2 linked regions of the Homo sapiens genome follow. The protein of the gene in region 2 purifies or fractionates together with the protein of the main gene of each other region. This does not show direct contact. Each region holds a gene or a part of one and is shown on either strand. Other genes may lie near its edges.

Region 1 (3,500 bases), on a different chromosome or scaffold from region 2:
AACGGATAGTACATGTTTTTGGCTTTGTGAACCAGATGGTCTCTGTGGTAACTACTTAGATCTGCTGTGAAAGCGGCAATAGACAGCATGATGTGGCTGCACTGGTTTGGTGACTCCTTGCTCAGAACATTGTAAGAATCCCTGTAGACAGCAGAAAATACAGAACATGGTTTTATGCTAATTTGTTTTGTTAGAGTGGGGTATCCTAAAAAATGAGATCCTCTGAGGGGAAGGTTTCCAGAGGCATGCATGGGAGGCTCACAGTGACAGGGTATCAAAGTTGATGGACTAGGCAACTCTTGAACACAGTATGTTCACTTCCAGCCTATCGTTCTCCCCACCCCAACTCTCCAACCATTAATGTCCTAGGAGCTTGTAAGATACCCAGAATAGTGGTCCTACATCTACTACTACCCTTGACTGTTGTTTGTCCTAAACCCTCCACTTCAGTAGTATAAATACCACTGACTTTATTTTCATTACTTTTTAAAAACATCTCCTCTGTAATAGGAATTTATATAACTGATAATTGGCTTATTTAAATTATGATTGAAGGCATTTAAATAGTGATGACTTTAAAAACTATGAGTATGGTCAAACCAGTTGCTGTACTCACTTATGATTATCAGTAGTCTCTTATCTGATTAATGTTTAACTTATCAAATTTATTTTAATAAAAGTGTTCTTTACAGGTCCTGAGAAGTATTTCTCGTTTTCATTGGAGATCACAGCATACAAAAGCCAATCGACAACGTGAACCAGGATTAGGATTTAGTTTTGGTATATGTTCGGTTCTATCTTTTGACTTTAAACTTATACATATGAAGCTTTATATGTTTTGTTTGGAATATGTTTGTAAATAAACTTAATAATGTCTTTCAATGAGTAGAACCAGTCCACTGTCCACAGATAATTTACAATAACTCACACTCCATTCTTCCTGATCTCATTTTCTTCCTCAGTATACTACACTGTACATTAGATCTGTTTTAGCAGCATACATACACTTAAATTCCTTCCTTTTTTTCTGAGTGTTTAGCCCAAAATAAATGAGATTTACTGATATATATGAATAGTCTTCAACTTACATATCTGAATGCCACAAATACATTTTAAAAACACTTGTTAGATTACAATTCTAGGTGCCTGGTAATAAGCTAAAGCTTGTTTTTGCTATAATATATCCAAATTGCAATTTTGGTACTATTAGATGAAGTTCTCACTCCTGGGACCAGGGAGCCATGATTTTTTTTCCTCTGCCCTCTATAAAATGAAAACTACACACAAAAAATTTGAAATAATATCTATCTTTGGCATTCTTGGCCTTCTAAAGTGCTTCTTCAAAATTTTTATTTTTTCTCTAGTTAAAAACCATTTACTCAATTTATTTGGTCTCAGAAAATAGTTAAAGGCAGCTGCGATAACTCACAGCTAGGTACAAATGACAATCTCAAAGCTCTCCAGAGTTATTTTTTTTATTATTTGTTGTGTTTTTTAAAGATTTTTCCCTTTTCTTTATAAAGGTTTTTTTTTTTCTTACCAGAATTTAATGAAATTTTTCTTTTCTTTTTCTTTCTTTCTTTTTTCTTTTTTTTTTTTTTTTTAAGATGAGGTTTCATTGTCTCATTATGTTGCCCAGGCCGATCTTGAACTCCTAGGCTCAAGCAGTCCTCTTATTTCAGCCTCCCAAAGTGCTGGGATTATAGGCATGAGCTACTGCACCCAGACCAAATGAAAAGTTTCTGTGTTTTTTTTTTTTTTCCTGTGACTTCTAGCCAAAGACTGGATGAAAATTTTCTCTTTTCTTTTTTTTGAGACAGAGTCTCACTCTGTCACCCAGGCTGGTGTGCAAGTGGCTCACTGCAACCTCTACCTCCCAGGATCAAGCGATTCTCCTGCCCCAGCCTCCTGAGTAGCTGGGACTACAGGTGTGGGTCATCATGCCTGGCTAATTTCTATATTTTTAGTAGGGATGGGGTTTTGCCACGTTGGCCAGGCTGGTCTCGAACAGCTGAAGACAAGTGATCCACCCACCTCTGCCTCCCAAAGTGCTGGGATTACAGGCATGAACCACTGTGCCCAACCTAAATGAAAATTTTTTTTCTTTTCTCTTTCTGTAGCCAAAGACTAAATGAAAGTTTTCAAGCACTGTGAGGATAGCCATTTGGGATGGTGGATTTTTTTTTTTTTTTTTTTTTTTTTTTGAGACTGAGTCTTGCTCTGTTGCTCAGGCTGGATTGCAGTAGCTCCATCTGGGCTCATTGCAACCTCTGCCTCCTGGGTTCAAGCGATTCTCCTGCCTCAGCCACCCAAGTAGCTGAGATTACAGGTGTGGGCCACCATACCTGGCTAATTTTTATATTATTAGTAGATATGAGGTTTCGCCATGTTGGCAACGCTGGTCTCGAACTCCTGGCCTCAAGTGATCCACCCGTCTTGTCCTCCCAAAGTGGGATTATGGGCATTAGCCAGCATGCCCAGCCAGGGTAGTGGATCATACTGAGATAATTAGCATTAATTTGGTATGATTGCTTGTCACTTTAAATTTCTCTCTCAGTAGTAAGAGACTTGCAGGAGAAATCTATGGTGGTTCACTGAGTGACAGAGGATGAGTTAGATATAATTGTTTGGGAGGGAGATTGTGAAGTTCAATACGGGTCTATTCCTTGAACCAGTTGCATCTGGTTCTTTATCTGTAAAGTGGAAATAATATCTATAACACAGAATTTCTATGAAGATTAAATTATATGCTGTATTTAAAGCCCCTAGCACTTAGTGACTGGATCAAAGTAGTTTCTCAATAAATAATACATAATACATACTTGTCATTTTTCCTTTTTTTTTTTTTTAAGAGACAGGGTTTCACTCTGTCACCCAAGCTGGATGCAACCTTGACCTCTGGGGCTCCATGGATTCTCTCGCCTCAGCTTCCTGAGCAGTTAGGACAATAGGTCCATGTCAACCACACCTAGCTGATTTTTTAAATTTTTAAATGTTTTGTTGAGACAGGATCTTGCTATATTGCTCAGGCTGGCCCCAAACTCCTGGCCTCAAATGGTTCACCTGCCTCAGCCTCCCAAAATTCTAGAATTATAGGCATGAGCTACCGTGCCCAGACTTTCTCTACCCTCTATCTACCTGCAAGATTGCTATCAACTGGCACCAATCTTAGAAGTAAAGCTGTGATAGAGAGAACACTGGACTGAAATTCTTAAGTATACTTCTGCTAATTCATTGTGAGACTGATACTAGAATTTCCTTACTCTGCATTAGTTTATCAATAAAAAGAGAGATTTGGCTGGGCGCAGTGGCTCGGGCCTGTAATCCCAGCACTTTGGGAGGCCGAGGTGGGCGGATCACGAGGTCAGAAGATCGAGATCCTGGTGAAACCCCGTCTCTACTAAAAATACAAAAAAAAAAATTAGCCGGGCGCGGTGGCAGGCACCTGTAGTCCCAGCTGCTCAGGAGGCTGAGACAGGAGAATGGCGTGAACCCGGGAG
Region 2 (3,500 bases):
GCTCCAGCCAGGTTCTGCCTCCCAGCCTTGGCAATGTCTGATTCCTCTGCCCCTGATGCATTTCCCTCTCTTTTTTATTTTCTCTGAGACAGGGTCTCATTCTGTTGTCCAGGCTGGAGGACAGTGGCGTGAACACGGCTCACTGCAGCCTTGACTTTCTGGGCTGAAGTGATCCTCCTGCCTTAGCCTCCTGAGGAGCTGGGACCACAGGGGTGAGCCACCAAACCCCACTATTTTTTTTTTTTTTTGAGACAGAGTTTCCTTCCCTCTTGCCACCCAGGCTGCAGTGCAATGGCATGATACCGGCCAAGCCTGGCTAATTTAAAAAATTTTTTTAGGCCGGGTCTGGTGGCTAACCCCTGTAATCCCAGCACTTTGGGAGACTGAGGAGGCCAGATCGCCTGAGGTTAGGAGTTCGAGACCAGCCTGGCCAACATGGTGAAACCCCATCTCTAGTAAAAATACAAAAGTTAGCTGGGCATGGTGGTGCATGCCTGTAGTCCTAGCTACTCAGGAGGCTGAAGCTGGAGAATTGCTGGAACCCTTGAGGCGGAGGTTGCAGTGAGCTGAGATCGCGCCACGGCACTCCAGCTTGGGAGACAGAGCAAGACTCCATCTCAAAAACAAAGCAGAACAAAACAAAACAAAACAAAAAAAACACAAAAATTAGCCAGGTGTCGTGGTGCATGCCTGTAATCCCAGCTATTCTCAGGAAGCTGAGGCAGGAGAATCCCTTGAACCTGGGAGGCAGAGGTTGCAGTGAGCCGAGATCGTGCCATTGCACTCCAGCCTGGGTGACAGAGCAAGACTCCGTCTCAAAAGAAAAAGAAAAAAACATTTTTTTTGTAGCGATGGAGGTCTTACCAAGTTGCCCAGGCTAGTTTTGAACTCCCGGGCTTAAGCGATCCTTCCATCTCGACCTCCTAAAATGCTGCGATTACAGGTGTGACCCAGGACCCTTTGCCATTTCCCTCTCGTAGCCACATGGCTCCCTGTTTTCTTTGCAGACTTTGCTCAAAGGTCACCTTTCCATGCAGCTTTTCTTGACTGTCCTGTTTAAAATTGCAAAATCCTGTCTCCCCCAGCCCAGTTTACCAATCCCTTTTCTTGGGGCCTTGTTTTCTCCCTAGGACCCTTCCCCTGCCACCACACGCTAGAGTTATCCTGTGACTCTATCACATTTCCTGCTCCAATCCCAGCCCTTAGAAGCATCTGGAACATTGTAGGTACTTACTAAATATTTGTTCAGGAATTAGCTTTCAACAAGCTATAACTTGGCCAAGCTACACCAGCTGACATTTATAGAACTTTTACCTCAAGCCAAGAACTATGCTAAATATTTTTAGGAGCAGTTTGGTGAATAGTTAAAGAGCTTGGGTTTTGCCTAAAGTCAAGTACTGGATCGACCACTGGCCAGCTTCTTGTTTCCTCATGTGCAAACTGGGATGATATAAATTGTTCAAAGGCTGGGCAGAGTGGCTCACACCTGTAATCCCAGCACTTTGGGAGGCTGAGGTAGGAGGATCAGTTGAGCCCAGCAGTTCTAGACTCACCTGGGTACGATGGTGAGACCTGTCTCTACAGAAAATTAAAAAATTAGCCAGGCGTGGGGACCTGTGGTCTTAGCTGCTTAGAAGGCTGAGGCGAGAGGATCGCTTGAGCTCAGGAGTTCGAGGCTGCAGTGAGCTGTGATTGCACCGCTGCACTCCAGCCTGGACAACAGAGCAAGACCTTGTCTCAACAAAAAGAAATAAATAAATAGTTTGAGTAATGTTAGTGGTTATAAAAAGGTGTGTCACAGAGACCAGCCTGGGCAACAAAGCCAGACTCTGTCGCAACAAAAAAATTTTAAAAATTAGATGGGCATGGTGGCACATGCCTGTGGTCTCAGCTACTCAGGAGGATCCCTTGAGCCTAGGAGTTGGAGGCGGTAGCGAGCTATGATGACATCATTCTCACTGCAACCTCCACCTACAAGTTTCAAGTGATTCTCCTGCCTAAGCCTCCTGAGTAGCTGGGATTACAGGCGTGTGCCACCACACCTGGCTAGTTTTTGTATTTTTGGTAGAGACGGGGTTTCACCATGTTGGCCAGGCTGGTCTCGAACTCCTGACCTCAAGCGATCCACCTGCCTTAGCCTCCTAAAGTGCTGGGATTACAGCGTGAGCCACTGCGCCTGGTCTAGGATTTCCTCTTTACAGATGAGAAAACTGCGGTGCAGAGTGTGAAGTGGGTTTTTGTCTGCAGCCTCCAGTCTCCAGTTCACAATCTCAAATCCAGTCTCTAACTTACCCCTAGTTTCTTTTTTCTTTTTTTTTTTGAGGCAGTCTCGCTCTGTCACCCAGGCTGGAGTGCAGTGGCACGATCTCAGCTCACTGCAAGCTCCTCCTCCCGGGTTTACGCCATTCTCCTGCCTCAGCCTCCCGAGTAGCTGGGACTATAGGCACCCGCCGCCACGCCTGGCTAATTTTTTGTATTTTTAGTAGAGACGGTGTTTCACTGTGTTAGCCAGGATGGTCTCAATCTCCTGACCTCGTGATCCACCCACCTTGGCCTCCCAAAGTGCTGGGATTACAGGCGTGAGCCACAGCACCCGGCTGTTTTGTTGTGTTTTGAGACAGGGTCTTGCTCTGCAGCCAAGGCTGGAGTGCAGTGGTGCCATCACGGCTCACTGCAACCTCTGCCTTCTAGGCTCAAAGGATCCTCCTACCTAAGCTTCCCAAGTATTGGGGACCACAGGTGTGTACCACCACACCCAGCTAATTTTTTGTATTTTTTTTTTGTAGAGATGGAGTTTTGCTGTGTTGCCCAGACTGGTCCTGCACTCCTGGACGCAAGCAATCCGCCCACCTTGGCCTCTCAAAGTGCTAGGATTACAGGCGTGAGCCACTGTGCCTGGCCTTACTCTGGGTTTCTTTCTAATCCTCTCAGATGCCTCCATAAAAAACAATCCTCCCCAAGCCCTAATGGATAAACTCCAAGCTCCTTAGATGACAAAAATCTTTCTAATCTTTTACCTTGACATTTGAATATGGAGGGAAGATTAAACTCTAATAATTAGAGGCTGGAAGATAATTAAAGTGTGACAATAGCACTGTGGTGCTGGAAGAGAAAAGTCCTTTTTCTTGGGACTTGCCGAAGGTGTCTGTGGGTGTGCAACTCCATTTCAAATAGTTTAGGAAGTCTGGGCGCAGTGGCTCATGCCTGTAATCCAGCACTTTGGGAGGCCAGATCACTTGAGGTCAGACCAGCCTGCCCAATATGGTGAAACCCCATCTATACTAAAAATACACACACACAAAATTAACCAGATGTGGTGGCAGGCACCTGTAATCCCAGCTACTCAGGAGGCTGAGGCAGGAGAATCCCTTGAACCCAGGAGGTGGATGTTGCAGTGAGCCAAGATCACGCCACTGTATTCCGGCCTGGGTGACAGAATGAGACTCTGTCTCAAATAAAAACAAACAAACAAAAAACCCAAATAGTTTAGGAGAACAAAA

What was found. The genes of interacting proteins can lie anywhere in the genome.
Region 1: the proteins of BLVRB (region 2) and ACADM purify together in Homo sapiens (affinity purification with mass spectrometry; one large-scale study listed by BioGRID and IntAct). This does not show direct contact.

Annotation. Positions count from the first base shown.
Region 1 is NC_000001.11:75,727,709-75,731,208, forward strand, and holds part of ACADM (medium-chain specific acyl-CoA dehydrogenase, mitochondrial isoform a precursor), read left to right. Parts: intron 1-680; coding exon of another isoform or gene 681-692; coding exon 693-780; intron 781-3,500. UniProt on the Homo sapiens protein: Medium-chain specific acyl-CoA dehydrogenase is one of the acyl-CoA dehydrogenases that catalyze the first step of mitochondrial fatty acid beta-oxidation, an aerobic process breaking down fatty acids into acetyl-CoA and allowing the production of energy from fats.
Region 2 is NC_000019.10:40,452,246-40,455,745, forward strand, and holds part of BLVRB (flavin reductase (NADPH)), read right to left. Parts: intron 1-3,500. UniProt on the Homo sapiens protein: Enzyme that can both act as a NAD(P)H-dependent reductase and a S-nitroso-CoA-dependent nitrosyltransferase. Promotes fetal heme degradation during development.